Linked DNA regions of Homo sapiens: all the other regions are linked to region 1. Evidence: fine-mapped expression QTL. A gene starts in region 1. Each other region holds a variant in brackets. All regions are shown on one strand. Distances are from middle to middle. Region 1 holds the start of ZMAT4 (zinc finger matrin-type 4). Region 2 overlaps ZMAT4 (zinc finger matrin-type 4). Region 3 overlaps ZMAT4 (zinc finger matrin-type 4).

What was found.
Region 2: its variant is fine-mapped to the expression of ZMAT4 in whole blood (TOPMed, PIP 0.99).
Region 3: its variant is fine-mapped to the expression of ZMAT4 in thyroid (GTEx, PIP 0.90).

Annotation. Positions count from the first base shown.
Region 1 is chr8:40,891,602-40,902,476 of GRCh38, reverse strand. ZMAT4 (zinc finger matrin-type 4) reads left to right here and starts at 4,651. Exons shown (of 7, transcript NM_024645.3): 1 at 4,651-4,794.
Region 2 is chr8:40,685,956-40,696,830 of GRCh38, reverse strand. All of the region lies in intron 4 of ZMAT4 (zinc finger matrin-type 4), which reads left to right. Among named protein-coding and RNA genes, the nearest start is that of ZMAT4, 210 kb to the left of the region's middle. The variant G/A (reference allele first, on the strand shown) is at 5,058.
Region 3 is chr8:40,791,481-40,802,355 of GRCh38, reverse strand. All of the region lies in intron 2 of ZMAT4 (zinc finger matrin-type 4), which reads left to right. Among named protein-coding and RNA genes, the nearest start is that of ZMAT4, 100 kb to the left of the region's middle. The variant C/T (reference allele first, on the strand shown) is at 5,920.

The DNA.
Region 1 (10,875 bases):
CCTGTCTGGCAGGGGTCCAACAGCTGTCTCCATGTGTGCAGACCTTTATTCTAGAAGGGTGCTTCACACTACACATGGCCTGCCAGCCTCACAGAAGGCAAGCTGACCTTCTTAATTCAGCTCCCCTACCCCTGTCAATTGTTGCATCGCTGGATAATATTTCATGACATCTTTCAGCTGCATATTTCTTATGAAGAATTTAACTGAAGTAAAACAGAATTTAGGTGGGCAATCTAGCTTTGCAAGTCTCTCTCTACCTCTCCATCTGTCCCTGTCTCTGTCTTCCTCTTTCTCTTTTTCAGATTATTTACAACTCTGGCTCACTAATAAATGTGATTGTGATTTAAAGAAACAAAATCACCTGCTTTATTCATCAGGGTATGTTAAATAATAAAATATCCTTACTGTTTTCAAACCTCATGAAGCCTGTATATTCTAATACCAACTTTCTAAAGACTCATTAATAATTAATGAAATCATTAAGAATGGTTCATGTTGACTGACACCCTCCTGGCAGCCACAGTCTCCTCTTACGCTTTGTCAAAATGTCACTGGCTCCACAGGTTTGATTTTCATGGTGGGAGTGGGGGTGTGGGTGGAGGGGGAGGGAGTTTGATTTCACAACAGCTATCAGCTAGAACAGAAAGCTATGAAAATGTTCTTCCAAGTTTCTCTACTTAGGAGACTGTGCTGGGAGAAGTTTTCTGAACAACCTTTCATTCTTCCAATGCTAGGTTCAAGAAATCCTGCTAATATTATGTTTTCATTGAAATGGTATTGTAGGGCTGAAGTCAATAAGCAAAGATGTAGTGTTGAAAGTCACCCCCTTTGTTTTCCTCTTGTTTTCACACATTTTCCTCTTTCTTGGCATTGCCTAGATTTATTCTCCTCTTCTCCCTTTTAGAAACAGAATTTGGCATAAATAAATGATAACTGAGAAAATGGCATACACGGACAAGTAAATGCAAGATTTCTCCAGCCTCCCACGGTAGGTCATGGTCATTTGTTGTAGCAAGTGGTTACCCACAAGAATGATGGAGGTTCCGGCGGCTGCTGTCTAATTTGTGTTTTAATAAAGAAACCCACATTCTTTCCCTAATTACTCAAAATGGAACAGGAACCCCCAAAAGTCTTTCCCACCATTAATGTCCTGAAACTGTTAAATCAAAATGGACTGCTTTGCCGAGTATGGCCCACAACATGGAATTTGGTACATTTCATACCCCAGTGAATTTAAATTGTATGGAGCTGATATTTAATACAAATGCAAGTACCAGTGGAATCTGCATATTTAATATTCATTCTCTAACTCTCAGAATTAAGCAGTTGATCTATGGGACACAAAGGGAGAATCCTTCTCTCAAAGAGGATATTTTATGACCAGGCAGTTTAAAAGACACTGACATAAACAACTGTTTGAGGCTTGCTCTCTTTCTTTCTCTCTCTCTCATCTTCAAAAGGCAAAAAGTACATGTAAGGACATGCTGTTTTAGACAAAGCATTTTAGAAAATCACTTGAAATGTTTTCCCTTTCCTTCAGGGACAACTAAACCTTTGATAGATACTCAAGAGAGTTCTTATAATTTAGTTTATTTCTCTTATTTTCTTAAGGGGGGTGGAAAAAGAGATAGTATGAAGGCACAAAGCTGAAGCCTACTTTCACTCGAAAGTAAAAATCATACTGCTTAAATAATAAAAGTGTTATTTATGGTTTTTACACCATGACTGAACACACCAGATTTTCTAGGACAGTGTCAATTTCAAATGTATAGCTAAGTTTAGTTTCATTATTGTGCCTTTGTGTGATTTCACCTAGACAAAGGAATGAAATAGAAAACAAATATTTTGCTACATCCCTTGCCCTAGTTTTGAATTCCTAATATACGGTCACTGTCTCCTACTCATGCTGATATTTGGAAAGCCATTATGGAAAGGACTTCATTTTTTGAGGTCATGCCTCACAAGTAAAATGTGCATCCCACATCCTTTCATTTCCTTCAAATGCTTGAGGGAGGAGGAAGGTACTGGGTGAAGACCTGCCTCATTTTCCAGAGAGAACACAGAGAGCTTCGAGTGACTCTGGAGCTGCCGCATTTCACAGGCATTTCACAGTGGTTAGTCCTGAATTTTTAGCTCTTGGACTCCAGAGTGGGCCCCCTCCACACTCTGCTCTGCTGGAAGAGTAGTTGCAGTGGAATGAGGGTCGCATGAGGCTTAGGGCTGTGCACCCTGGATGCTTTGAATTGGGTTTTAGTAGTCAGCCCACTTATTGAGTGCTAGGTGCTATCTGTGGAGTGATAAAAATATGCATGATACCATCTCTGTCTTTACAGGGCTTGAAATGTATTTAGGGAAGCCAGGCATGTATGCATGAAATAGAAAGTCACCATACAAGGCAGTGGGGCACCTGCCATTTGCTGCAGAGGACGCAGCTGAAGATAAGGACTACAGCCATTCAAGGCCCCAGGGGAGGCCAGGGCAGGACTGGGACCAGAGCCTCACCAAAGACATGGAGATCCTAGGATAAGAAGGCTGAAGGGTTAGTTTCTGGATCATCTGAAATTTGATATTTTAAAAGCTTTCTTTAAAAGACGCTTTTATAATTCTCTCTTAAAAAATTCAGCCCATTTTGTCCTTTGCCATTTTTGAATTGGGTTATAGGTCTTGTACTTATTGATTTATAAAAGCTCTTTCATTTTAGAAACATTAATAATAAATATTTTACCTAGTTAAGAAAATTTAGCTGCCAAGTGATGTCTTTTCCATATGGTGACAAATACATTAAGGAGAGGGGAAGGTCAAAATTTGTGCTTTATGATTTCTTCTTAATTTTTAAAAATTTTTAATTTTATGGGAACATAGTGGGTGTATATATTTATGGGGTACACGAGATATTTTGATACAGGCATGCAATGTGTAATAATCACATTAGGGTAAATGGGGTATCTGGCACCTCAAGCATTTAGCATTTCCTTTTGTTACAAACAATCCAATTGTACTCTTTCAGTTATTTTAAAATGTACAATATGTTTTGCTGACTGTAATAACCCTGTTGTGCTGTCAAATACCAGATCCTATTCATTCTATCTAACTCTATTTTTGTACCTAGTAACCATTCCACCCCCGCCCCTTCCTAGCCTCTGGTAACCATCATTCTATTCTCTCTGTCCATGAGTTCAATTGTTTTAATTTTTAGCTCTCACAAATGAATGAAAACATGTGAAGTTTGTCTTTCCATGCCTGTTTTATTTCATTTAACAGAATGTCCTCCAGTTCCATCCATGGTGTTGTAAATGACAGGATCTCATTCCTTTTTATGGCTGAATAGTACTCCACTACGCATATGTACCACATTTTCTTCATCTAATTTATCTGTTGATGGACACTTACATTGCTTCCAGATCTTGTCTATTGTGAACAGAGCTGCAATAAACATGGCAGTGCAGGAATCTCTTCAAGATACTGATTTCTTTTTTGGGGGTATATACCTAGCAGTGGGATTGCTGGATCAGATGGTAGCTCTATATTTAGTTTTCTGACAAACCCCAATACTGTTCTCCATAGTGGCTGCATTAATTCACATTCTCACCAGCAATGTAGGAGGGTTCATTCTCTTTTCTTCACATCCTTGCCAGCATTTGTTATTGCCTGTCTTTTGGATAAAAGCCATTTTAACTAGGGTGAGACTTTATGATTTCTTGGTGAACAAGGAAAAGTGTTTAAGCTGTCCCCACCCTTTGATGGGTATGTTCTCTCTTCACGTGCGTAGGTTGTTGATGAAAGTCTAAGCGATTAATTTAAGCCATGTCAGAATAAACCAAAGTGAGGGTCCCAGCAGAATCATTCACTCTAGAATGCTCGGCTTTCTGGACCTCCCAGTGAGAACAGTGAGAAACTCCAGAGTTTTATGGATTTTAAGAATAGCTCTTCTGAGACTCTTTGGACAGGGTGCAAAGGAAAATTGTCTCCTCAGGTTGGGGGATGAGGGGGACTGTGAGATAAAGTACTGATAGATAAACTCCAGGTATGCACCTACTATGCTCCCCAAGCAATCTGCCATGTCCTTCACATGTCCTCCAGGGTGGCCCTGTGAAAAGCATTACTCCATCCCTTCAGCCCTCAACCTTGCTCGGCTTTCTAGAGTCTGTCTCATGCCGGCAGACACCCCATAGTTATTATTCTCTCTGCCCTCAGCAACATTTACCAGTTAGGGGGAAAATAAAGCCAGAAAATTGTTGCTATGGGCTCTGTTTTGTGGAAGTTAAAATGCTAGAGCAAGAATCTGATTGCTTGATAGCTCCATCTCTCTCTCTCTCTCCCTCCTACCCTCCTACCCCCCCACAGTTTCTCCTTCTTTTCCTCTCCCCTCCACCTCCTTCCCCCACCCCGCTCCCCCACATTTTCCTACTCCTCTCCCCTCTCTCCACTGGCCTCCCGGTCCTGCCCCCACATTGGGCTGGAGGAGAGCCTTACAGGTTGTCAATGAAACATGGAATTATTTCCTTTGATGGCTTAGATAATAGTAGGAGCCAAAGCAATGAGTGAGGTCGGCTGAAACCAATGCAGTCCTGCCCGGGACTGGAGAGCCAATCGCAAGAGCAGAGGGCGGGGCGTCGGAGCCAGCAGATAATTGCTAAGTGCATCGCTAGCACAGTTGGTCCGAGCTGCCGAAAGGTCTGGTCGCAGAGACAGGAACGTGTAATCCTCAGCGTGCTCCAGCCCACAGCTTCGCTCTACTGCTCGGCAGGGCAGCTGGCCTCTGGGCACCGGCGGCCCCTCTGCCTCGCGGAAAAGGTACCTCTGCCTGCGTCCCGGGGGTGCAGCGCCTGCGTCTCCATTGCCAGTGGCTTTGCAGTTTAGCCTAGGTGGAGGGATTGCAGAAAGAAAAGTTTCTGGGAGGGAATGTGATAAAGGTGGGAAATCACTGTCTTTTGTTGGGAGGAAAACAAGCGGACAATTTGGGAAACTTCTGCGCTGGCAAGAAATGGGCTTGTTTACTACTCCTAATTAGCTGCGCTCAGGTCTGTCTAAATAGGTCTGGTCTCAGGCTAGGGTGTCTGCAGGGCTGGGGTGGAGATTCGGGTGTGCTGGGTGAAAGAAGTTGGATCCCAGGGTGTGCTGTTTCCTGGTGCACCCATCATGGATAGGCTGGTTCCGAGAGAAACGTGATTGGTTGTTTGTGTTTTCCGCTATAGGGTCTGTCCCCTTCGTATTACCTTGATCTGCCTTCCCCAAACTATTGTGACCTTCAACTGGAGTCCTTCCTCAAACTTCTGCCTCCTTCCTGCCTGTCTCAGTTCATTTTATTTGGTGGAAGGAGACATTCCCCGGGGTGGGTGGGTGAGGATGGTCTATTCTGTTTGACCTGGTGGGCACCTACGTGACAACTTGGTGACACGCCAGCAAAACAGTTCTCAGAGGAGAGGAAATCACATAATTAATTAGCTCCCGAAAACTCTGGAAGACTTTCCAGGCTTGGGGTATCCTGAAAAAAAAAAAAAAAGAAAAAGCCAAAAAACGGGATAGAGAGTTCGGTTTGGTACCATGTGAAGCTTACACCCTTGTCCCCAGAAGGGGTGCCTGGCCCGGAGCATCCCCGCAGCTCTGGGAGGTGGAGGCTGGTGGAGGGGGTGGCTCCGTGTAGGTGCGCAGGTTGTTTTGGTGCACAGGTGCATTTGTGGCAGAGGTGGTGCTGAAGTCACCATCCACACTGCTTCTGCTAACTGCTCTTGAAGTAAAACAGCTCACCCCGGCAGGCAGCTGGTTCAGCCCAGAAGCACCCTTGAGCATTCTAAATCGCGAGACCTCAGGGGCCTCTCTTGCTCTGAGACCCTTGGGAAACTCCTTTCTCCCCCTGCCTCCTCCGCCTTTGGCTTCTGCTAAAGGGAGATATTAGGTAGGTGAGTCACTAGGAAGCAGGGACCCATGGGGAAGCAGGCGATGTGCTTGGTCTCGAACTTTCTTCCTCTTCTGCGAAGGCAGCTTCTGCTTGTGTGCCCACCGCACTTCACCAGTTGCGCTGCCTACCTGCGGGATACTCTGAAGCTGATAGTCTGGGGGTGATCTTCCAAGTCCTAGGGGCATTGAAGAGTTTAGATGATTTTCATCCCTCTGATTTCCGTTAAACCCGCAGCTGGGGAGTTCGATTCCCAGTCCTGACAAGACTGCATGTTCTGGGAGGGATTCTCCAGTGACACCTCTTCCTCAGGGCACCCTTCCACGGAGATGCAGATGACAGTCTTGATTCTCCAGCTCCACAAATCCCTTCCACTTTTTAATTCTTATTTTCTTTAACCACCACAACAGATTCTCCTCCACCTCCTGTAGGCAGCTATTTTGGGTGGGAACTGTGATTATTGAAACTCTATTCACAATGGTTAAAAAAATGCCTGCCCACTTTTTTTTTGGGGGGGGTGTCAAAATACCATCAGCGTTCTCTTCTGTACTTCCTATCTGACAGTAAACAAAACAATTTTGCAGCCCTGCCAATTATAATCTTTTTGTGTTTGGGGGGCCTGGAGCGGAAGCTGAACTTTTCCCAGCCGGTGGGCATGGTTAGTCATGGACGTCGTCCTCTGTGGCCTCTCCAGGGCACGTGACCCCCAGGGAGCCCAGGAGGGGCAGCCCCCAGCACGTGGGGGATCTTGCATGAGAGCACCTTGGTTTTCATGAAGGCAGTAAGGAAACCAGAAAATGCTTTTGAGTTTGAGGATTGCAAAACTGGGGGTTCCCTTTAATTGATGCCAATCTGTTGGATTTCTATCGTGATAGGAAACATTAAAAGTAAGGCATTTGAAACAGCTCCTGAAGGGTGAGTCATGCACAGAGGGAAGAGGCAGTGTGGGGGGAGGGGGCGGAGGGGGCCTTGGAAAGTACAAGTGGGACACGCTGGAGCGCTCGCTTTCCTTCCCTCTGCCTCCTCCTCAATCCTCTTTCTTGTATTTCCCCATTCGGAACAGAGATCATTAAAATAACAACTTTAGACCAAAAAAGGATCCTAGGAGCTGAAAAATAATTGACAAAGTGCAAAACACCCTCATTACAGCTTCACCTTGGATGGGGTGAGGTGTGAAACCCAGGACCCAGCGCCTCTGCTGCGATCCAGTTTGGAGAATCTAATTGCTGGTGTTAGGCTAATTAACTCCTTGTGAAGCTGCGTGCCTGTTTGTGTATGCAAGGACCGATGAATGCCTAGGAAATTAAATGTGTTACTTGTCATTTCATCAAACATGATGGCTTTGGCCAGGACCCTGGATAAGCACTATCCACAGACCCAGCGTTTTCTCCTCTTCCCAATTGGCCAAACTGGATCTCTCTCTCTTTTAACCACTATGGTGGGAAGGGGTTGTGTCTTTCTGCTTTTCCAAGCCCTGCGTGAGTTACCTGGCAAATAAAAGTCCTCTCCTTACCCCTCTGTCCCTCCATCCCTGTCATCCTTCTGTTATCCCTTTTCATCATAAACATATCAGTAAGTAATCTTTTGCCAACCTACTTTGATCTTGTCATTTTGTGCTGATTTTTCTGTTAAAGAAAATTGTCCCCTGAAATAAGACTGAAAACATATTAAAATTTTTATCAGAGAAGAGCCTTTTTGCCTTCTGCTTTAAAATTTAATTTTGTGCTTTTGGGGAAATCTAATAAGCACGCCTATTGTGTTCGCTGTTTTGGTAAACGCTTTTACAATGTCTTGTTTTTTTTTTCTGTGGATGTGTGAATTCCCTTCCTGTCCTAGGGGAAGGTGTGTCTGGAGATTTGAAACACTCTGGAACACCTCAGAAAGTTGAAGAGGTTGGAGCACGCTATTTCCATGTATTCAAGGTGGGGTGAAGGCTGTTTTGAAACCTAGACCCTGAAATGTATTCACCACACTCTGCTATTTTCCCTCTTCATCTTTCATTTAGGAAAATTTCATAGCCCAAATTATGACTAAATCATTCATCCTACTCACTCTCCTTCCCATGCTCGTGCCCCTTCCTCCCTTCCTCCATTCACCCTACATGTAGGGTTACCTCTCTTTCCTGGTTACTTTTTGTTTCTTCCTTCCTGTCATTTCAGGGGGCCCCAGGGTGGAGATCTAATTGTAGATGTTTTGTGCACCTCACTCCTGAAACAGTTAACCAGGGGACATCAGGAATTGTGGAATGTGATAGGAGCCTACCCTAGGGGAGCAATGAGGTAATCCTGTCCCCAAGTTCAGTTCTATGCAGACCTCACCAGAGCACCTGGAGTGGTGCAGCTGACCTGCATGAGGCAGACAGGGCAGATGCTTCGAAGCACAGTCCTGTCTGACACCTGGAGAGTCCCACCAGCCGCAAGCCCTCACTGTGCCACTGTCCTGAGGCCTGCGCCTGCTGCAGCCCCATGCGCAGAGCTGACCTTGGAAACATTAGCATGCAGGGAAATTTGCCTGCTGTGCTCTCAGTTTCTTTGCTCTTTGTTCTCACCCCTAAATCTGTTAATAGTTGGAAAGGATCAAATCTACTCATTCATACTAAGGTGTGAACAGTTAATAGTGTTGCTACTTACAGAGGTATTTACATTCTTAAAGGAAATCAAAGATGTGTGTATGTTCTCACTTATAAGTGGGAGCTAAGCATTGAGTACACATGGACATGAAGAGGGGAACAATAGGGGCCTACCTGAGGGTGGAGGGTGGGACGAGGGTAAGAATCAAAAACCTGCCTATCAGGTACTATGCTTACTACCTGGGTGATGAAATAATCTATCTGTACACCAAACCCCTGCCACGTGTAATTTATCCATTATAACAAACCTGCACATGTACCCCCGGACGTAAAATTAAAAAGTTGGAAAGAAAACAAAAGATGTGCACAGTCAAATTCCAGGCACCTGCTAGTGGGATTGGGCAGAGGCAGACTGAGTTTGGATGGGGAGCAGAGTGGGAAACGGCGGCCTTCGCTTTTTAGCTCTGGCTGGTCCTGCTCTGACCCATGCTGAAAACATGCTGCAGTGTCCCAGGGCTTTGTGATCTTACTATCTGGGCTCTGGCACTTGAGCTAGATCCCTCAGATTTGAACTTGGGCATGTGCTTATGTGCCTTTTCTGACTTTTAGTCCCCTTAGATATAGAGCCAGAGGTCAGGACTACGTTCTCACAGGCTCCTTTCCGCTCCAACCTTCTCTCTTGATTTTGCCACAGAGCCCTACATCCCACTGCAGATGCTACAGCTCTGGAAGCTCTCGGAGCCTGCAGAGCATCCTCTCGTGCGGGCCATGGTGATCAGCGATGCTTTCAGAGCTGGAATCCATGAGGGCAGCTCGGAAGATGTTGTAACAGAAGAAGCACAGGATGAGGGCTGATGTAATAACTGATTTTGGTTTAGGAGGGGATGTTATATGGAGGATGGCGACCAGCTGTTCTCCATCTCCAGCAAGGATTGAACTAGAGAAAATAGACAGAAATTGCAGCAGATGGACTTAGATTAGGTATGAGGAAGAATTTTCCATCAGCAAGAGATGTTAAAAAGGGAAGGTTGTTGAGCCTCTGTGATGATCTTTAGGAAACGGATAAGCAGGGGCTTTTAGCTGAGGCAGGAGCCACAGATCTGTGAGGAGGGAAAGGCAAGGGCCATGGAGTGCAGGCATCTGTGCCCTCTGCTGATGAGAACCCTTACCTATTTCCCTGAGCCTAGAGACCCTTCCCCTGCCCTGCACCAGCTGCCACCTGGACTGGCAGATTCTGTCTATTGCATGGGAATCATTCATCAAGTCTAATCTTTCACTTCCAGATGTGGCAGATGATGCCCAGAGAGGTAACAGGCCTTGGCGTTGTCACACAGCGAGCTGATAGCAGAGGGAGGACCAGAATCCAGGTCCTCCATGTCCCAAGTCAGTGTTATTTGCTTTGTAGTTCATTTTCTTCTTGTTTCCAAATTGAATAGACCATTTGCTTTCTCTAGGCTCCTAATTTCTCTGTAATCAAATGGCAAAGACAGGAACACCTGTGGTTAAGCAATATTTATTGAGTGCCTGTTACTAACACCATGCACTCCACTCCAGCTTCCCTGTTTATGCCGATGACTCTTTAGTTCTGGCTGAGTGGCTGGGAGGGGCTGCTGACCCATCCCTGGGGGGGCTCCTGAGTGTGGCTGTGAGGCCAGGGTGGCGGGAATGTGTTCTAGAAACCAGAGCTGAGAGGAGGGGATGGGTAGACCAGAAGAGGATGAGAAGAGAGACATGGGAGCAATGAGATACTTAATCTGAATCTTATGAAGGGAAGAAAGACTTTAGATATCTCTGCAAACTTCTCCCTGGATAAATGAAATAAGATGGGCCCATAGCATGGGATCACTCTGGGTAAGACACATCACCTGTTACCTTACGGAACGGGATGAAACATACCATGTGAGGGCGTTCAGGGAGGGTGGAGTGGTGGCCCAGTGGAGAGTGCACACCGCCACACACGTGGTGGCCTAGCTCCGGACCCAAAGGCAGGCTGTCAGTGAAGTTGGGAAGTCTCACAGTTTTGAGAATGAGGCCGTGACCAGCTGTGGAGGGTTTTGCTTTGTGTTGGTTTGAGCCAAGTAGGAAGCAAGATAAATTGGTGAACTGAGCACCACAAAATAAAACCATTCTGTGTGTAGCCCTGAGAAGAAAGAAGAAAGCACCCCAGTTAGTGATGAGCTAGGCATCAAGAGGACAGCTCAGGGTCGGCAGTGAGTGTGGGGAGGCGCGACCCTTCCATGCCCCTGGCTGGCCAGGGTGTCCCTGTGCTAACAAAGGCATCCTGGGCCTTTGTGCCCAGCACGGAGGTAGGCACTAGGGGATCTACCAGAAGGAAGAGGGGTTTTTTCTCCTGCAGGAACTGGCCCAGCGAGACCATCAGCCCCTCAGGCAGCAGGGCAGGGTGCCCTTC
Region 2 (10,875 bases), 210 kb after region 1:
TTTTTTACCTTGGCAGGGGAGAGTGGGAGGAAAAGAAAGGAAAACTATAATCTTTAAAAGTACTTTAGTGTGCCAAGAACTGATTTATTTATTTTTTTTTCTGAGATGACATTCTCATCATCTTTGCAGGGGATCCTGTGATTCATCTTGCAGGAGATCCTGTGATTCAAGCCTATTAACTTTCACAAGTAAAACCTTAAATATTGATAACCGATGATTTGACCTTCTAATTGCTTAACTAAAATAAATTCTTCAGAGGTCTATCACATCATGAAACTAAAACACTGTTATAATTTAATCAAGATAAACTATTTGGACAAGATTTATGTTGTGGCAGAAATGTGACCAAACAGGTTAGAATCCAGAGAAGTTGGGGGCGTATTTCATGGTGCCTACTCTTTCCATGCGATTAAAATTTAGCAGTACATTTTATCTGCTGTCTAATGAATCATGCATAAACTGTAGGTGTAATTATTTTGTAAATGGCATTTTGCAAACTGGAGAGAGCCTAAAACAATGCTTGGCTTTTATCCTTACCACTGTTTTTCTTAAGAAAAAATGTATTCTTTTACCTAGAGAATCACAAGGAATCATTTTACTGTATTTTTCTATTTAGTTTAACTAAACAACATTGTTTTTGTAAAGGTGGCTGTGACATTCAGGCATAGGATGAGGTTGCAAAACACATGAAATCTGGAGACAAGCTCAGTATGTTTGGGGGCACAGGTTGTGTTTCAGCCTTTGACAAGCAGCCAGTCAATTGAAACTCCTGATTCTTGCTCCCTTAAATGTTGCATATTCACCTTGTAACCTACTCCCCATCAAATCTCTTAAAATAGACACCTCAAAAAAACAGTCACTGGAAAATTTTTACCTGTTTTCCATGAATTAATAACCAGTCCATTTGTTCTCTCTGCTGAAGCAGAATATTACTGTTAAATTAAATTTTGGAGGTAATGATGGAAGAGGAGAAGGTGTGTGTTTGCTTATCACATCAATTAGCAAATGGGAGAGTTATTCTTTCTGCAAAAAAAAAAAAAAAAAAAAAAAAAAAAAAAAAAATTGCCACATGGCAAAACCAGTTCTTTGTGAATTTAAATACAGCTTCAAGACAACCAAGCATCCAATTGTTTTCCTGAATTCAAACACCCTCAGATCTGGGAAATAGAACTCGAGTGTAATTTGTTAGCCATCATCAATACATTCCAAAGGAAAAGGAAAAAGCGAAGTACAGCCTTTACTTAATGGCTTAGTCTTGGCTGTTCATGGGACTAGCTCAGCCCTCCCTGTTGCAGAAACCAGGTTGCTGGATAGGCAAGAAGGGAACGAATAGGGTGTGGTGCACCGAAAGCTATGGCTCAGGTTGGGCCTGCCTTGCGCCAGCTCCCCCTTCACACCCAGCTTATACCCCCTTCTGCAGCTTGCCCTCCCATCCATTCCCCTCTGTCACTGCTTTGAGCAGAAAGGATCTTGGAAAGTGGCAGCACCAGACAGATCAGAGGGCCTAGGAAGCTAAACTGGCTCCTGGCTTGGGTTGGTGTCAACCCAGCTGTTGGCAGGGAGCAGAGAAAGCAAGGCCTCCTACTAGAGGGAGCAAGTAGTCAGACATGAGGCAGTTTGGTCAATAGGAGAAAAGACATGCAAATGTATGCAATGTGTGTACACGAGCGCCTTCAGAATGAAGACCCAAATGCAGTAGAAATTGGCCATTTTTATGGTTACTTCAACAAAGTAAGGGCAGCCTTGTAGAAATATGATTGCACAAAAAGGGAACGATCTAATGCTGTTGGACAGAGTGGGGACACCTAGCAAAGCCTGTCTGTCTAGATTCTTCTTGGCCTCTCTGAGCAGCACTCCTTCCTTCTGGGTGTGGGGCAGGACCCTCTCTGGAAAGGGGGTCTCATGTCCTACTCTCCAGCAAGGTCAAACAGATAATTTCTTTATGGTCAGTTTTTACACAGAAAGGTGAGGGGAGTGAGGGGAAGTTAGATCAATAGTTTTTAGGTTTTATGGCTGGCTTTGGGGAAAAGGCGGTTCTGGTTTCTAAGATCTGCCTTGGAGAAGCAGGTTTCCAGGCTATCCTTGGGGGAGAATGGGACTGGGAGACAGGAGGGTAGGAGAATGTCAGAGAAAAACTTCACTTCTGAGGCTGCTGCTCAGGTCTTCATTTTGAGATATTGTTTTGAGTCCCAACAGCAGAAGTAGGCATTGTGGGGGTGTCCCAGGTTAAGGGTTGAAGGCCTGATAGGAGGATGGCACCAGCATCGGAGGCTCTGGGCCCAGGGAGCATGCAAATGAACCAGCAGTGTGCCGGTGTTGGGAAAGCCTGGCAGATGGTAGCAAGGCCTGCTGCAGTCCTGGGTTCTAGGAAAGGATAGGCTGAGAAGACCATGGCAGGACACCACCATTTAATACAAGCATGCTGGGCTGGAGACCACGCGTAGAAAACAAAACAGGAACCTGAATTCTAGCCTTAGAGTATAAGGTGGAGGCTTGTTCTCAAGTTACTGCAAGTACAGGAGAAAGACCAGGAGGCACTGGAAAAGAAAACCCACACTATGGCCTCCTGAATTATCAAGTACAGCTCCCTGAATGGAGTCCGGATGGCCATCCTCCCTTACTGCCTGCAGCCACACCCAGCAGCAGCTTCTCCAGGGCTTCACCTTCCACGTGGTGGCTGCCTTGTGCTCCTCTAGGAACCGCTCTGCCTAATTAACCAAGCTGGCTTGAAATTGCTTCTATAATAAAAACAAAAGGAAAAAAAAAGGAACACAGAAAATCCAGTCAACTGAATCAAGATGTAAGAGAAACAATTTTGCTCAGGTATGCTGCCCCCACCCCCGTGAATAACAGGCTCTTGAACTGGGGTGATTTCTGTGTTGGAATAATTGAACCACAACTCATTGCTTCTGCCAGCTACTTCGTCTGATGAGGGTGAGCAGTTGGGATCTGTGAATCACTACCTTTCCACCCCCTCCAGCTGCCCTTTGATCAAGCATCTTCTGGGTCTCCTGCAGAATGAGTTGCAACTTGAGTCGCCTTCTCCAGATGGGTGCATGTTTACTAGAATTTCTGAAATGCTTGGCAGAGCCGCTGGAATAACACTCATTCATTTACATATTGTCTGTGGCTGCTTTTATGCTGCAATGGCAGAAGTGAGTTGTTATAACAGGGATGATCCAGGTCACAAAGCCTAAAATATTTGCTATGTGGTTCTTTACATACAAAGTTTGACTCTTGATCTAGAGACTGGATGATCTTGAGGAACATGCATCAAGGAGGCAAAGGGTTTTTTATACAGAAACTCACAACGGGTGCTAGGGTGAGTGTCTGTATAAAATGGAAGCAGTCTTCCCAGGCTGTGCACCAGTCAGGAGCTGGGGAGGTGCCTGGGATAGAGATTGATGAAAAGGATGTGACTGAGAGCAGGCTCATACCTGTAATTCCAACACTCTGGGAGGCTGAGGCTGGAGGATTGCTTGAGCCCAGGAATTTGATACCAGCCTGGGCAATGTAGTGAGACCCTTTCCCTACAAAAAAATAAAAATTAGCCAGGCATGATGGCACATGCCTATAGTCCAAGCTCCTTGGGAGGCTGAGGTGGGAGGATTGATTTAGCCTGGGAGGTTGATGCTGCAGTGAGCTGAGGTTGCACCACTGCACTCCAGCCTGGGTGACAGAGTGAAACCCTGTCTTAGGGAAAACAAGAAAAAAGACCCCAGTCATTGGGTTTAGGGCACACTTTAATCCAATATGATCTCATTTTAGCTTAACTAGTTACAGTTGCAAAAAACCTATTTCCAAAAACATTGACATTCTGAGCTTCTAGGGGGACATAAATTTGAGGGGACACTAACCCGGTATATGAGCAAACTCCAGTTAACTGCTGGCAGCTGGCAAAGATCATAGGCCCTGATTCTGTGCCTGCCCCCAACCTCTTTTTTTTTATGATAAATCCATATCAGCAAGATCTCATTCAAAATCCTGAAGAAAACATCATTTAACTCTTCTCTTTAGAAACTTACTTTTGGAGAAAATATGAATGAGAGGAAATCTGATGTATGGAAGAAAATCCTTAAACTATAGTTATTCTCCATTTTCCACCATTCATCAAAGTGATTTTTAAGATTATGCATAATTGGAATGGTTAGGTTCTATCCAGCATTAATAAGAACATTCATCTGTGTCTGTAGCAGAGACTTTGCTTATCAGACACCCATTTGCTTTTTATCTGCCCCAGACTTGCAATTGATTGTGTGTTAAGACCTGGCTACAAGATGGAAGAGAGCCATTCAACTGCGTTAGACTTTGCACGAACAAGAAATAAGCCTTTATTGTGATACTTTGCGGTTGTATGGTATTACAGGAGAGTCTAATCTATCCTGGTGGCTACATTATCCCTTAAAGTTATTGTTTCAGTTATAAGCTTTTATGAACACATCTATCATTCACAGTAAAAATGGATATGAGTGCAATCTTTCATATAATTCCCAGACATCATTAGTTTGACAGGTAATGACATCAAATTTAGCAATAACCTTTCTTTCATTTTTGACCCTTCAGAGTTTGAAGTGGCCCTAGGGTTATGTGTGTCTTCAGTAACAAGGCTGGATGGATAGAGAACCATTCTGAGGTGTGCTCTGCAGGGACCACAGTTATTACTGCCTCTGTTCATGACTGTACCTCTGGGCACATAGTAGGTATTTAATTAATACTTGTTCGATGTGTAAAAATTGGAAGCATACATTAGAATAATAATAGGCAGTTAAGTGTCTATAGTTTTATTTTCAAATTTAGTTACCTTGGTTATTTAAATTTTAGTCAAGTATGATGGTAAAAAACAGTGGTTTTCCAATTTAACAGGAATGTATCATCCCTGTCCACTTGCTTGATCTTACAAAACTCCTTTCTTTGTAAAATAGGTGATATACCAAATACCAGAGGCCACAAACAGAGGCTGTGAAGTCAGACCCAGTTTTAAATTCTGCTTATATCCATGGGAACATTCACAGGTGGTTTTAACTGTTCAGCCCTCAATTTGTTAAAGGTAAAGTGAC[G/A]GAAACACATTACAGAATTACTATAGTAAGGCAGAAGATATAAGTAAAATACTTACTATAGTGTCTGCCACACAATTCAGTGTGGAATGGATATATTATTGTATGTAAATACATACAAGTGTAAGCATACACACAACTGATCCTCATTGTTTGAGGATTCTGTATTTATGAATCCACTGTGATTTATTTGTAACTCCAAATTAATTCTCCTGGCACTTTTGGGGTTATTCCCAGACATGTGTGGAATTGTGAAAAATGTGAGTCATGCCAAGTGCACATTCCCAGCTGAGGTTGAACACGGTGACATTCTGCCTTCTTGTTTCAGCTCTCATTCTGTAAACAAGTCTCTCTCTCTTTTTTTTTTTTTTTGCAGTCTATTTAGTGTCACGTGTTTTGCACATTTTGTGTCTTTTGTTGGTGACTTTGCCATTTAAAATGGCCCCCAAGAGCAGTGCTGAAGTGCTATCTAATATTCCTAAGTACAATAAGGCTGTGATGAACCTTACTGAGAAAATAAGCTTTGCTCAGACATGAGTTACAGTGCCATTGGTGGTGAGTTTAAAGTTAATGAATCAAACATTTATATTAAATCAGACACATTTAAGCAGAAACACACATACATCAAGGTTGTATATTGATTGATCAAAACCTTGTAACCACAAGTTCCTAGGAACCTAACCCTGAATTTCTCCTAGGAGCAAAGTGATTTACTGGTATTTGCTGGTCTACTGAATAGAACATTTCAAAATCCAAGGCTCTCACTAAGTGGATTGGTAGCAACAAAGACAGATATTTATACACTTTAAATCAAGTATTTCTTATTTGCAGGAACAGTAAACAATGTAAGAAAAGCAACGGATAAGCAATGATCTCATTCATTGCATGTATTGTAAGTGTGTTTATTGTATATTCCTCTTCTAAAATCTTATTGGTTCTCTTCTTTTTTTCCTTATTTCCTGTTGAAAATTAGAGAGACAGAGCTTCAGAACTTTTACATAAATTTCCATGCCAGACACAGAATTGCTTATTTAAGTTCTCTGTTGAATAAGTAAAGATCAGGGTAGTCTATATCTGCTTGAAAGTTACATAAATTCAAATTTTGAATAATACATGCACTCTAGGTTCAATCAGCACCTCATATTTGCATATAAGATTTCATACACCATAGCAGTTATTTCATCTGAATCAGGTTATTTGGTTTGTGTGGCATAATCTGTCTAGATGCTTGCTTTAATAGATGCAAACAATAGTTTGTCAAACAAGCAGATCTTAATAGTGGTGCATCTTCTTTTAAATTAGGAAAGCTGGCATGTTCTGAGGCATCATCTCTAGATCAGTGCATTTGTTCCAGTTGATGTTTTGGCTTTTCTAAGCTCATAAATGTAAGTAATAGATTCACAGATTTGCAGAGCTGGAAGGGGCTTAGTGATCGTTATTTTAGCCATCTCAGATACCTTGTGAGAAAACTGAAGCCCAGAGGGGTGAAACCATTTACCCAAGGTGATACAAGTGGCTGACAGCAAAGACACTTCTCTTGCAGTAATGCTTCCCTGGTGTCACTGGTGGGAGAAACCATGCCTGTTAGTCCATGCCTATCCTACAGCGAGTAGGATTTAAATCCATTAGCAATGTGAGGTAAGCTGAATTCTTTTGGCCATAATTTTTCTGCGCTGGGTCATAGCAAGCTTGGGGCAATGATTAGATTAAGACTGCTGTGTTTTTTGTTTTATAGTTGATGACTAATGAAACAAGAGATCAGTGATTGGATAAAACTAAAGATTTTAACAAGGAGCCTACTGCCTAGGTGATTTTCACAATCCTTTTCAATACCGTAAACTCGATTTTCTCTTTTAAGTGATCACATAGTGGTATAAGACAGTTGATGATCTCAGCATCTTTTATGATGTTGTTATACCTTTGTTTCAGAAAATATTCTTTGACATACTTTTATAAAGGAAAATAGTAGAACAATAAAATAATCAATTTCCTGTGCATACTCTGAAACTGTCAACAGGAGACATGGTCAGGACTTGAAATCCATACGCAAAACACATTACTATTCAAAAAAAAACTACAAGCAGAAGATTTTCTGGCAACAACTCCTGAATCATCTATTAAAGATAAGAACCCTAAAAGTGTCTAGTCTATGAAATTGAGAAGACACTCATAAAGTAAGCATCACACCTGAAATAATGGGTAGTAAATGTCCCAAACTATATTCCCATTCTTTGAAATATCTATACATTTTAAATATCAGCCTCAAAATTCTCACTTAATGCTCAGATTGGTTTCTTTAAGAATCAGATGCAATAGGTGCAAATTACTGCATGGCATTTGAGTGCGATTAACATAACATTTTAAAATATTTTCTAAATTCATGTAAATTACTTCTGTTCTCTGACCCTGAAGGTTAGTGAGAAGACCGGCCCCAGCCATTCACTGGAGTATCCTCCCTCTCCCTCTTTAGTGCCACTCACAGGGCTCAGAGAAGTCTCCACCTGTGGACTCTGGCTACTTGATGATCTCACCCAGGATGCTGTTGTGTTCTCAGCGTCCACAAGCTGGAGGTCCAGCCCTGGGGCTCCCTCAGAAGTGTATTTTAATCATCTGTTTTCTTCATGGGCCAAGTCTCCTCCGTTTCAACCTAGACCATGGAAAAGAAGACCAAGGACCCATGGGAGGCATTCCTAGGGAGGTCCCACCACCTTGGACACACTGTTTTTAAGCTGCTCCGGTCTCTATCAACAGTTACAACTCCCTTTTTTCCTAGTCCCCAAGAAGCCAATTACTTTCTTGACACCAGGCATACTCCTCTTTGACATTCAGATCCCTTTGCCTCTCAGACAACTCAACACAAATCCATTTGCTCATCCTCTCCCAGAGGTGGGGAAAACCAGACTTCAGAGCCTAGCTACGTTTTTGGAATGGAATGCAAAATTTCCTCTCATTTTAATGAAGTGAGCCTATAAGAAAATAATTTCTAATTTCTCGATAGGTTACTCTGCTATGTAAATTGTCACATGACACAGACACCTAGCATGTTCACTTACTGAAAACAGAAATATGAAATTTAATATATTTTCCTCACTTTACCAGCCTTCAGAGAAGTTGTTTCTCTTGTGTAGGATTTCCTGCTAAGTGATTTTCTTCTATTGTTTGTTGAGCACTCAGTAGTTTATGGCTCTAATCATAAATCCACCTAAGGTTTGTAAGTGTATTTTGGCCATCTTGAGGTACCATGAATTGCAAATGGGAGATTAAAGGGGCCCAACAAAGTTTATTTTATTTTATTTTGTTTTTATTTTTATTTTTACTTTTGAGATGGAGTCTTGCCCTGTCACCCAGGCTGGAGTGCAGTGGTGCCATCTCAGTTCTCTGCAACCTCTGCTTCCTGGGTTCAAGCAATTCTCCTGCCTCAGCCTCCCGAGCAGCTGGGATTACAGGTGCATGCCAATACACTCAGCTAATTTTTGTATTTTTAGTAGAGATGGGATTTCACCATGTTGGTCAGGCTGGTCTTGAACTCCTGACCTTGTGATCCACCTGTCTGGGCCTCTCAAAGTGCTGGGATTACAGGCATGAGCCACCGCCCCCCGGCCTATTTTATTTTATTAAATTTGTTGTGGTGGTGGTGTTGTTGCTCAGTTGCATTGAAGGACTAAGCAATGAAGTTTTTGCAACTCTTTTTGGAGGCAGCAGTTTGTCTCGGTCGTGGTACTGGCTGAAGAGATGATCTGGGCATTCTGAGTGCAATCCTCAAGACTTAGAAATCAGTAAGTCTTTGGAAGCTAAGGGTCCTCAGTCATCTGAAGGAAGGATTGCTGCTCTCTTGCCACTTGTTGAGATCACTTAACTGAGAAGCAGGAGATGGGTTGAAGGCCTACCCGTGAATTCTTGCTGTGATTATTTCCTGATTAGTGGAAACTGCTAATCATTAGCATCTTCATTTTGCATTTCACTCTGCAGAGCAGATGAAATCTTAATGCCTGGCCTTTCATTTTCAGTTAGCAAAACTAATATATCAAGAATGCTGATGAGAAGGTGAGGGAAGGATTCACTGTAGTATATGTGGTAAATGAACATTTAGTCCATCCTTTTTGATACAAAGGGAGGTTTTATTTGTAGTCAAAGTAAGTCAGAGAGAAAGAGGTCCATACAATTGATGAAACCTGATGATTTAATATTCAAAAATTGTGCTTTAAAAAAAATGTTTCATCCAGAGTGTAGGGTATAGAATGACTTCTACCTAGAAGTTCATGAATCTTGAATCACCAACATGTTTTCTGTTTCCAATAAGATTCTATTTAACTCTTTCTCATTGGCTGGTATGCTTTACCCAATATCTCTCCCTCCCCCATCAGGTATTAATAATCCTTAATTCTACCAACCTCCCAGAACCGCCCTCCCCGGGACAGTCAGCATGGCTTCACATCAGGGATCAGCTCCCTTAAGCTCCCTCTCTTCTGTGTTTCAAAGCTATTTTTCAGCAGCTTTGGGAAACAGCTGGCCATCAGCCCAAATTCTGTCACCTTCTATGTGTCTCAAGTGTCATTAAGTTGTACTTCAGTGCCCCGTCTTCTGGCTAAGTAATTCCACATCCTTTATCCTGCATCATATACTTTTCTTCCTCATATCATCTCTCTGCCTCTTATATATACTTTCTATTATTCTGTAAAACATCGTAGATAGCTTTGAAGGAATCTCTGACTGCTGGAGTGTCAGCAAACTTACGACCAGCTACAGGAACATGCCACCACCATTGCACTAACTTTTCTGACTCACTCTTACCAACCACTTTTCCCGCCTCATGTTCTTCACAGCCCAGCAATGTGGGATTGAGGAAAGAACACAGGGCAGCAGTTAGGGGCTCTGGGTTCTAGTCTTAGTTTTCTCTGTGGTCAAGATGCCTGCAAAGTAACTTTTGTCAAACAGACACTTTTAATCCTCACAACAAGGTTGTGAAATTGAACCACTGGCCCCATTTTATTTTAGGAAACATTCTCACTGTAGGTAAAATAACCCACCAGAGTTGTGATTTGAAACTGGTTTTGGTTTTATTTCAAAATGATATTTCATGATATTATTTTCTTTGTACCTGTTGCTCTTATGATTTTTAAAAATTGTTATTACTTTTTTTTAATTTGTAGAGACAGGGACTCACTCTGTTGCCCAAGCTGGAATGCAGTGGCACAACCACGGCTCACTGCAGCTTCCTGGGGTCAAAGGAATCTCTCACCTCAGACTCCCGAGTAGCAGGGACTACAGACGTGCATCACTATGCCAGGCTAATTTTCAATTTTTTTTCGTTGAGACAGGGGTCTCACTCTGTTACCCAGGTTGGAGTACAGTGGAGTGATCATAGCTTACTCAAGCTTTGAATTCCTGGGCTCAAGATTTCCTCCTACCTCAGCCTCCCAATTAGCTGGGGGTGCAGTCTCACTATGTTGTCCAGGCTGGTCTTGAACTCCTGGTTTCAAGCAATCTTCCCACCTCAGCCTCCCAAAGTGCTGGGATTACAGGTGTGAGCCATCGTGCCTCGCCTGTGATTTTTTTTTTAAGTACATAGACTTCTGTAGAATTAATACATCTTAATAAAATAGTCCTGTAAAATTAGTTCAAAATATGTCTATTTCAGACTTTAAGCTCCTTGAGGTCATGGATGGCTCTCTATACCTAAGGCAGGGCACAGTGCCAGAACATAGTTGAATGAATGAAACATGACTATATGAATATTTGGTATGGCTGAGGTGCAAGTGAAGCCCATCCCTACGCTGTTGCTCCAGTCTGAGGGTTCCCAGTCCTGTCTGCCCATTGGAGG
Region 3 (10,875 bases), 100 kb after region 1:
TCTAGGGGCCATTTTGTTGATTCTTTGAGATCTTTTATAAAAACAATCATGTCATTTGTGAAGAAGGATAGTTTTATTTCTTTCTTCCCAAAAGGTATACCTTTTATTTCCTTTTCTTTCCTTATTGCATTAGCTAGGACTTTCAGTACGATGCTGAAAAGCAGTGGTGAGAGGAGACATTCTTGTCTTTTTCTGATCTTAGCAAGAAAGATTTGAATTCCTCACTGTTATGTATGATGTTAGCTGAAGGTTTCTTGTAGATGTTCTTTATAATATTGAGAAAATGTTTCTCTATTCCTATTTTACTGAAAGTTCATAACATGAATGGGTGTTGGATTTTGTCAAATGTTTTTTCTGCATCTTTTAATAGATCATGCGATTTTTTTTTCTCTTTAGCCCGTTGATGCAACGGATTACATTAATTGATTTTTAAATGTTGAACCAGTCTAGCATACTTCAAATCTCACTTGGTTGTGGTGTATCCTTTATTTTGTACATTGTTGGATTTAATTTGCTAATATTTTGTTGGAAAATTTTGCATCTATGTTCATAGGAGATATTGGTCTGTAGTTTTCTTTTTCTTATAATACTGTTTTCTGATTTTGGTACTAGAGTAATGCTGGCCTCATAGAAGGAGTTAAAAAGCAGCTTATGGAATTATTGAAATTGTTATTATTATTTTTTTAAGACAGAGTTTCGCTCTTGTTGCCCAGGCTGGAGTTCAATGGTGCGATCTCAGCCCACTGCCACCTCTGCCTCCTGGATTCAAGTGATTCTCCTTCCTCAGCCTCCTGAGTAGCTGGGATTACAGGTGTGCACCACCTCACCCAGTTAATTTTTTGTATTTTTTAGTAGAGACAGGGTTTCAGCATGTTGGCCACGCTTGACTCGAACTCCTGACCTCAGATGATCTGCCTGCCTCAGCCTCCCAGAGTGCTGGGATTACAGGCGTGAGCCACCGCACCCCACCGAATATATATATGTATATATATATATATATATATTTTTTTTTTTAAAGAAAGTATCATCTGAAAGACACCATAGAGAATTGGTATAATTTTTCCTAAAATATTTGGTAGAAGTCATTAGTGAACCCATTTACGTCTGGTGCTTTCTGTTTTGGAAGGCCATTATTAATTCAATTTCTCTAATATATATAGGCCTATTAACATTATCTATTTCTTCTTGTGTGACTTTTGTCAGATCGTGTCTTTTAAGAAATTGGTCCCATTTCATCTAGGTTATTAAATTTTTGGACATAGAATTTTTCATGGCATTTTTAAATTATTGCCTTAATGTTCATGAGACCTGTAGTAATGTTCCCTTTTTAATTTCTGATATTAGTAATTTGTGTCATCTCTTTTTTGTTCTTAGCTTTGCTTGAGGCTTATTGATTTTATTCATGTTTTCGAAGAATGAGCATTTGGTTGTGATAATTTTCTCTATAATTTTCTGTTTCTAATTTTATTTATTTTCATCTGCTTGCTTTGAATTTAATTTTTTTCTTCTCTTTCTAGTTTTCTGAGTTAAAACCTTATGTGATTGATTTTAATTTTTTCCTCTTTTCTGATGTATGCATTCAATGCCATGAATTTTGCTTTAAACACTGCTTTACTGCATCTCACAAATTTTAAGTTGTGTTTTTATTCTCATTTGGTTCAAAATATCTTAAAGTGTTTCTTGAGTTTTTTTTGACCCATGTGTTATTCAGAAGTGTATTGTTTAATCTCCAAGTATTTTGGGATTTTTAAACTATCTTTCTGTTATTGATTTCCAGGTTAATTCCACTGTGGTTTGAGAACTGATAGTGATTTCTATTATTTCTATTATGATTTTTATTATTTTAAATTTGTTAAGGGGTGTTTTAAAGCCAGAATGTGGCTTATTTTGATGCATGTCCTAAATAAGTTTGAGAATGTGTATTCTGCTGTTGTTGGATGAGATAGTCTATAGATATCCATTATATTCCATTGATTAATGGTGTTGTGTTTATGTTCTTTCTTATTAGTTTCTGCTTTTTGGCTTTGTCCATTTTGGATAGAGATGTGGTGAAGTGCCCAAGCATAGTAAGAGCTTCGTTTATTTCTCCTTGAAGTTCTATCAGTTTTTACCTCATGTGTTTTGACGCCTTGTTATTAGGTCTATACACTTTAAGGATTGTTATGTCTTCTTGGAGAATTAGCCCTTTATCATTACATAATACCTCTTTTTATCCTTGATAACTTTTCTTGGGCGTGTGGTCCATCGTTGACTCAAATGCTGCCATGCAGCAAATGACTGTAGTTAGATTAATATCTAATATATTTGTTACTGTTCTCTATCTGTTGCCCTTGCTTTTTGTTTCTGTTTTTATTTTGCACTGGTTTCTATTGAGCATTTTATATGATTCCATTTTCTCTCCTTTATTAACACATTAGTTATTCTTATTTTTTACTCTTTTTATTGCCTGGACTACAGTTCATAATATTCACTTACAACTAATCCAAGTCTACTTTCAAATAGCACTATACCCCTTCATGGTTGGTGTATCTCATAATATCAAAATGGTCCTAATCCCTTTCTCCTTTACCTTGTTTTATTGCTTTCATTCATTTCACTTATACATACTTATACAATTGAATACATTGTTGCTATTATTATTTTGAACAAATTGTTATCTGTTAGATCAATTAGAAAAAAAATTCTTTTATTTTACCCTCAACCATGCTCTTCCTGACTTTATGCAGATCTGAGTTTCTGACCTTTTTTATTTTCCTTTACATTTTAAAAATTGTTTTAAATTTTTAAAATATCTGCCTTTATTTTGTGCATTCAAATGGAAAACCCTTCAGAGAGCCCTCAGAGCCCTCAGGATAAAACTCCAATGTAAAGAGGCACAAATCTTTAAATTTGGAATAAAGAAAAAACCTTAGTCTTTCTTTTTCTGTCTTTGCTTTTGTCTGTCTCTGTCTACACATATCAGAACGGAAAGGGAAAGAGTGAGAGAGACGGACAGACAGGAACAGAAACAGTTTTAAACTATCTAAACATCATTGATATCTAAATATAGTTTTGGATATCTATCTGTCTCTCTTTCTCTCTATCTGTCTCCCTCTCTCTCTATCTGTCTCCATCCATCCATCTATCTATCCATCCATCCATCCATCCACCCATCTATCCTTCTCTCTGTCTCTCTCTCTCTCTATTCATCCATCCATCCAGCCAGCCAGCCAGCCATCTATCCTTCTCTCTGTCTCTCTCTCTCTCTATTAATCCATCCATCCATCCATCCATCCAGCCAGCCAGCCAGCCAACCAGCCAGCCAGCCAGCCATCTATCCTTCTATCTATTTATCAAGATGGAAATGGACACACAGACAGACACAGCAAGAGAGAAGCTAGGCAGGATGCTAAAGGTAAGGCCAGCTGGGAATATGTCCCAATTGAGGGGACTGGCCTGAAAAAAGCCCCTTCCAATGGCTAGAAACACAGTTCAAAAACTTGGAGTAGAGAAGAGAGGTGGAGGAAAGTCTGTATGCTGCTAAAACTGCCTTCAGGTTTAACCATCGTTTTATTTACTGATAGAACCCTGTGTCGATCTAGGTCGAAGCCTTAGGAAGTAATGTTGAGAAATAGTAGCAATAGCAATAAAGGCAGAGGGAAATTAATCTCAGCCGAGTGCTGCTCTGGGAAAGCAGGTAAGAATTATCCACTTTGTCAATGAAGTTTTCTTCTGTCAGAGCCAACAGAAGTTGAAAGTGATCAGGACTACCAGGAGCATCAGCAGGGACCTCTGTGGCTCTAAAGTGGGGTGGATTTATGCAGCATATGGAAAGTCAAGGCAGCTCTTCACAGTGGAATCAGTCAGGGAGTAAGAGGTATTTATTGGTTTCTAGTGTTCTTTTCTGCTTTTCAGCAACGTCTTTTCTCATAAAACCTACAAGCGGGGCTTGAAAAATAAGATGTCCTGCCTGCTGTGGGTTGTCATACATTAAAGAGCCTGGCATTGGGACCTTGGAACAGAGCGATGCCAGTCAGCAAGAACACATTCTACTGTGGAGCTTGATAAATGTTTGCCAGGGGAGGAGGAAGAGAACATCAGAAAGTTCTTTCCGAGATGTGTGCAGATCATTAACTTGCAGATCAGGACCCTGAGCATATCTGCTCTGGTTTGTGTGTGGATTTCCAGTTCTTTGAAGACTTTCCTAGATCACAAGGAGATGCAGGAAAAAGCCAGTGAGGAGCCTGACCGCTTAGCCTGAAGTAGAGGTTCCCCCTGCACCCAGTTCTTTGGCGACATACTGTGCCCTCTTGCTTCCCCTGCTAGGAAGCTGGGCTGTGCCTGGTGGAGCAGTGAAGACCCTGGAGAAGAGTGAAGGGCATGGACACCTGATACTGCCTCCCTAGGACCTTGCCTTACCTGCCAGCCCCTCAGTGCCCTGGCTTAATTGCCTGGCTCACTCCTTAGAGGGTTCTGACTTGGAATTCAAGGTCTTGCCCCATATCCAAAGGCTGCCTGTCCTAGTGCATGTTCTAATGTTCAACACAGCTACCTCAAAATGGGGGATGCTGCAGGTGAGGAGACTGTGACCTGTCGACAGATCCCCTGCCTGATAAGCTTACTGGTGGCAACATTTCCATTTACTGAGGACCGAGTGCTGTACCAATCTTTCTGTGCATCCTGTCATTTCTTTCTTCCGATGACCTGTCAAGTGGTAGATATCTCAATTTTGCATGCTGTTCCTTAGAGGAAATTGTAGCTCATGGAAGTCCTGTAATGTGCACAGCTACAATATCTGGGCCCTGTTATTTTGCAAATTCTCCAAATACCACCGTCCTTAGTCTTGTCACTCACTCCCCCTCCCCTTCACTGTCTGAGGTTAAAGGACAGGTGACAATGCAGTTGAGTTCAATTGTGATCTCTTTAATTCAGTAAGGATGTATTGGGCTCTTAGAATGTGCCAAGCACTGAGCCTGGGGCCCAGCACGCAGGATGGGCAGTAATGTCGGCACTGTCTGGGTAATGGCATGGAGCTCCTTGAGGCCAGAGATTAATGTGTGAGGCACAAGTGTCATATCACTCAAGTGGCCCTAAGTGCACCGGCAGAGGCACACTGCTCAGACAGGTGCTGGTGCTTTTTTTGGTGTTAGTGGCTAGTGGAGTAGGATGTGGTGTGGTGGACAGGCCCGGATTCACAGAGGCACTGGGAGGTGGGATCTGCAGAGTGAATGAGGGTTCAGTGGTTAGACAAGGGGAAAAGGACACTCCAGGTGGATGGCACAAAAGCTCAGAGCTCTGAGTGCATGGAAATGGTGTGCAGTGTAGCTTTGCTGGAGCACAGAGTGAGGGGAGTGAGTCTGGAAAGCTAACCAGGGGCGATTCCCTGCCTGTGGCCCCTGGAGGTGAAGATCAGGCGAACTGGCTAAGGAGGGGCCAGTTAGCCAGTTATGGGGCTGGAAGGCCTTGTGCTGCATGGATCCTGCCCTGGGAAGGAGATGAGATCTCCGAGCACAGCAGGTGGCTTTCTGTTCTGGGACTTCTTGCAGTTTCCCTGACACTCAGAAGAAAGAGAGAAAACAAGGTGACCTCTGACTGAAAGGGGAAAGAATTCCAGACTAGATCTGATGAAGAAGCAAAAGGGAATACTGTGAAAAATGTTTCAGACTTGCAATTCCAGGCACCTTCACCTCTCCAGTCTCTGCAGCAGCTGTGCGGGGCGGAGCCGGGGAGGGAAAGAGATATCATTCTAAGTAGTGCATTTAAGGGAGAACTGTAGGTCTGCAGTTTTGAAAGTTTTTCTTTCTTTCTTTCTTTTCTTTAAATACCACAGAGACAGTGATAAAGAGCTGGGTGAGATTCAAGGGTTCTGGTTAGCAGACAGCCACTTGGCGAGTTGCTGACTTCAGCACTTGCTCTGTTCCTTCCTCAAGTGCTTTTCTC[C/T]TCCTCTGCTAAATACACAAAAAGAAGCACCCTGACATGAAATATCAATGTTTTTTTGTTTTCATTTTTCAGTACTGATCTGAGTAAATCATGCCAGGGTCATTTATTGGGAAGGAAAATGTGGCATGGCAGGCGATATGCCTTGAGGTGAGTGTCATGTTTAAGCAGAGCAGACAACGGTGGGGCCGGTTTCCTCTCCCTGGGGAGCCTCTTGGAGCCTGCTGTTAGGTGCATGGGCGCTGTGGATGCACACTGGGTATCTGTTGATATACAGGCTTTCAAGGCCGGTTAAATATGGAGCGGAAACGTCCCCTTTCTTTGTAGCTGCGTCAGCCCCTGAGAGTCAGCCAGAGGGGGAGAGCTGGGTTGTTCTGAGGAGGGGCTTCACAGACCAGAGTTGCTATTCTCTATCTCTTCACACACCAGAGTTGCTATTGAAGACTCTGAGTGAGAAGAAAGTGGGAAAGAAGAACAAAGAAGAAAGTGTGGAAAATTAAGAAGCTGTGATGGTATATTTTAAGCACTTCTTTTGCTTTTCAGGTTCATTTTGTAACAGGAAGGGACCAAAACTGGTCTAGGCAGTGTCTTGGCTAAATGCTATGATGCTTGTGGTGGTAGTGAATGGAATATAAAACATCCCTTTGGATGCTCAAGAATGTCATCGGTTTGCAATTTGCAGAACGGAAAATGTTGATTATAAAGTATGGAGAAATTTTTATATGCAACATTAATGCAACGGATAGTATAAAATAAATCTGGGGATTGAAAGTTTATATCCTGAGTTCCTGAGTCTCAGACCTTTAAATCAATACTCCACTCCACTGATGAGAGCAGTTTCCCAACTGATGCATCAGTACAGCCAGTCAAAACATAAAAGGAGCCCCCAGGGAGGAAGCAGGTGTCATACTAAATTCTCCTCTCAGCCTAGGGACAGCCTAGGCTCTGAATTGAATTTCTGTAACTGTAAATTCTGGACTTAACTATGTTGGCCAGAAATTGCACTAAAAAACAGTCTCATGGTCTGGTGATCATGGTATTCATAAGGATCCAGTACAGCTTTTAATTCGTGTCCTTGGCTGCCTGATGGACAGACCTCGTGAGGTTTGTATTTGTGTCTTTAGGAGTCAGGTGTGCCAGGGCCTCTTTGCATGGGTGTTTCACGTGAGTGTGCAAACCATTGGCCACAACTGTTCTTGGAGGTTTGCCCCCAAATCAGCTGCAATGATCGGATGCTTGGCTATAAACATGGACTCAAGGTTAGGGCTTTCAAGGTAAGGGCTAAGTCCAGAGTAGATGTGTGATTAGACTAGGGTCTGGGGAGTTATACCATAATGCCAGGATCATAGAATAGCATTGCTGATGAGACATTGGTAAGTGGAGAAATAAAGGTGCAGAGAGGACTTCTGAGGCTTTGTCTTAGGTTCCTAAGCTAAGACAGAGTGTTTCTGCATCTGTCACCCTCCCTCTTCTGAGCTTCCAGGGCCATCTAGTCCTCCTCTGCTGTCAGGAAAATGAGATTCCATTTGCCACTTTTGCCCAATGCCCACCCTCCCCCGCCACCTGTAAGCCCTTGTCTTCACATGAACGCAATCATTGCCACACAAAAGCACAACCCCTTGACGATGACAGCTGGCCGTTTGTGTCCCCAGCTGAGACAAAGACCCAGAGAGGAGAAAACTGATCCACAGGGGAGGGACATGCCTGACCTGGGAATACCTGTGTCCACTGGGGAAAGGAGAGTTAGAAAGGCAGCGGGACTGTGTGTGTCTCACAGCATCAATGAGCTAAAACCCAGACCACGCTGCCCTGCGGTTTCCTGCACCAGGCCACGTGCTCTGCTGTTGGGCTTCATTTCTTCTGTAGTTGTCTTTCCCCCATCCCTAAGACAGGGAGGCAACACCAAGCCCAAGTAAACTCCCCCGGAAGAAGGCTGATAGAGAAGCAGGACTGTGGGCTATTCTGTAGAGAGTGCCTGGAGTCATCTGGCTGGAGAAAGACTTTGTGAAATGCAATGTAGTGTGTTTCCTTTCTGGGTGCCCTAGGTTTCAATGAGTAGTCAGAACCAAGACACATAGTGCTATATGGTGTGTTGGGTAACTCCATGTCTGAGTCAGGGGAGATTCTGATGCCTCCAAATGCCCATGGAGTCTCTGTAGCTTATGGTGCCAACAAGCTATTTCTCATCCATGTGCATGAAGTCAGTTCTTCCTAAAAGCATCTTACCCTGTAAGAAAGTGAGGCTTGTTATCCGAGTTCTGCACCACATTATGCATCAACACTAATGCATCAGTGCATTTGATTAAATGATATTTATGTTTGAGTTCAAAAATTTCCAAAAAAAACATTAAAAAAATTGCCTTTTGATGTCTCCTAAGGCAGCTGGCAAAGAACTAATTGCAAGGGAAATTCTCTTTGGTGAAAGTGGACATTCTGCTTAACTGAATGAGAATACCAGCGGGTGGGGAGAAATAAACATGCTTTGTTTTCCACAGAAGGGAGCTTGCATATGTCCTTGAGGAGTGTACAGATCTGGGGCAGAAAATACACAAATATGTGCTTCTACTAAGAGATCCCAAGGAGGGGCGAGTCCGTCACACTTTTCCTGAAGAAGGTGACAAGAGGAATTCAGATGGATTGTAATTACAGATGTCACACCTCAGGGGACCCCTCAACCTTGAGAAACTTCAGGGCTTAGACAAACGACATAGATACAAATCAGTGGCTCTGGTCCTCACAGACCAGCAGGTTTGAAAACATTGGGGACATTACTTGTCATGAGCAATTCATTTTACTTGGAAATGTTCGCAAGCGTTGGACTTTTCGGCATGACTTGGAGATGAGATTAAACATCACGAGAGCTTTAGAAACACCCCCAAATGGAAAATTTGTAACGCTTGAAAGGAAGCAGCAAATTCGCAAAAGGATTTCAAGGCTGTTGTTAAATCATGCTATTAGGAAAGAAAGGTCAGCCCTTGCCCGATTGGAAAATCGATGGAGCGTGGCTCTGGAACTTGTCTTCCTCCTTGTGTGGACAGCGAAAGATGGCATTCCCCCTCCAGGGGCACACGGCCTATTCTGTGCCTTCTCTCAACTGTCCTTCAGTCTTCTTACCTGGCAATGAAAGGCAAAGTAGGGTTTTGTTTGTTTGTTTGTTTTTTGTTTCTGTATTTTTAAATTCACAGACTTATTTTTGTGCTCAGTTTTAGGTTTACAAAAAATTGAGCGAAAGTACCCATGTACCCCCCTCTCACCACGGTTTCTCTCTGTTATTAATATCTTGCATTAGTATGGCACATTTGCTGCAATTAATGAGCCCACATGGACACATCATTATCACCCAAAGCCCACTGTTGCGCTCAGGGCTCACTCTTTGTGTTATATCTTTGATGAGTGTTGACAAGTACATAATATGTATCCACCATCACAGTATCATACAGAGCAGTTTCCCCAGCTGAAAAATCCTGTGTGCTCTGCCTATTCACCATCCCCACACCCCTCAGGCAACCACTGATCTTTTTGCCATGTCCATAGTTTTCCATTATTTAGAACATTATATAGCTAGTATCATATAGGATGCAGCCTCTTCAGATTGACTTCTAGTACTTAGTAATATGCATTTAAGTTTTCTTTATGTCTTTTCATGGCCTGATTGCTTAGTTATTTTCTTTTCCTCCCCTCTCTTCCCCTCCAGTCCCCTACCCTTCCCCTCCTCCCCTCCCCACCTCCTCCCCTCCCCTCCCCTCTCCTCCTCTCCCCTCCCCTCCCCTCTCCTCATCTCCCCTCCCCTCCCCTCCCCTTTCCTTCCTTCCTTCCTTCACTTCCTCCCTCCCTTCCTTTCATTCCTTTCCTTCCTTTCCTCCCTCCCCTCCCCTCTCCTCCCCTTCCCTCCCTCCCTCCCTCTGTCCCTTCCTTCCTTCCTTCCTTCCTTCCTTCCTTCCTTCCTTCCTTCCTTCCTTCCTTCCTGAATACTATTCCATTGTATGGATGTGCCATGGTTTACCTACTAATCTATTGAAGGATATCTTGGTTGCTAATGGCAAGATTTTTAATCTTATCATTATATTAGTATTAGTGAACTTGAGAGGGGAAAGTGGCCAGTTCAGGGAATATATAACTATTTATAGTCTCCTTTTTAAAAATAAAACAAGACTTTTGTCAGTTTATAAAAGAAATAAGGTTGAACCATATGAAATTGCCAATATTTAATCCTTTTTTCACATACAAAAATAGTAGTTTCATATGGTTCAACACAGCATATGCTCACAGTATATAGCTCACATACAGAAATGTAGAATATTGAAAGTGAAACATAGGATTTTTTTGTAGGTAAGGAAATACAAAATTAATGTAAAAGTATTTTCTGCCTCAAAGTCCAGTCAGACTAGTTTCAACCCCATAGCTAGTTTTAGTCTTTTTAATCCCAGAAAGAGGTGAACTCATTGCATGCTGTGGGTGGATAGCAACACTGGTGGATTTTGAAGCAACCCACCCGGACATGGAGTTATGGCCCCTCTGCTGTGCAGCGGCCCTCCTGATGAAGTTAGCTGGTGCTCATAGCTATCCAATTTATTGACAAGCCAGTGGACACCAGGGCACAGGGCTGGCCTCCTATAGCTTCCTTGTCTGTGGGCTATAAGGGAGAGCTTCGATTTCTCAGGCTAAGACAAAACATGGCAGAATATGCTGCTCAGTGTAGTGAAAAGTGTGCTGGTCTTAGAGTCCGTAGTTGGTCAATAGCTATTATTTAAAAAAATCTATGTTCTGAGTTCTGGAGATCTAGCAGTGAGCAATTCGGACTATTCCCTGCCCTCAACAAGCTTATATTGCAGAATGCTGGATGTGGGTGTGGGGAACTACATGAGCAGAAGATGGCCCAACTCAGCCATGAGCCAGGGCGAAGGACCTGTGTGACCTTGGCTGGTTGCTCAGCCTCTCTGAGCCTTAGGGTTTTTGGAG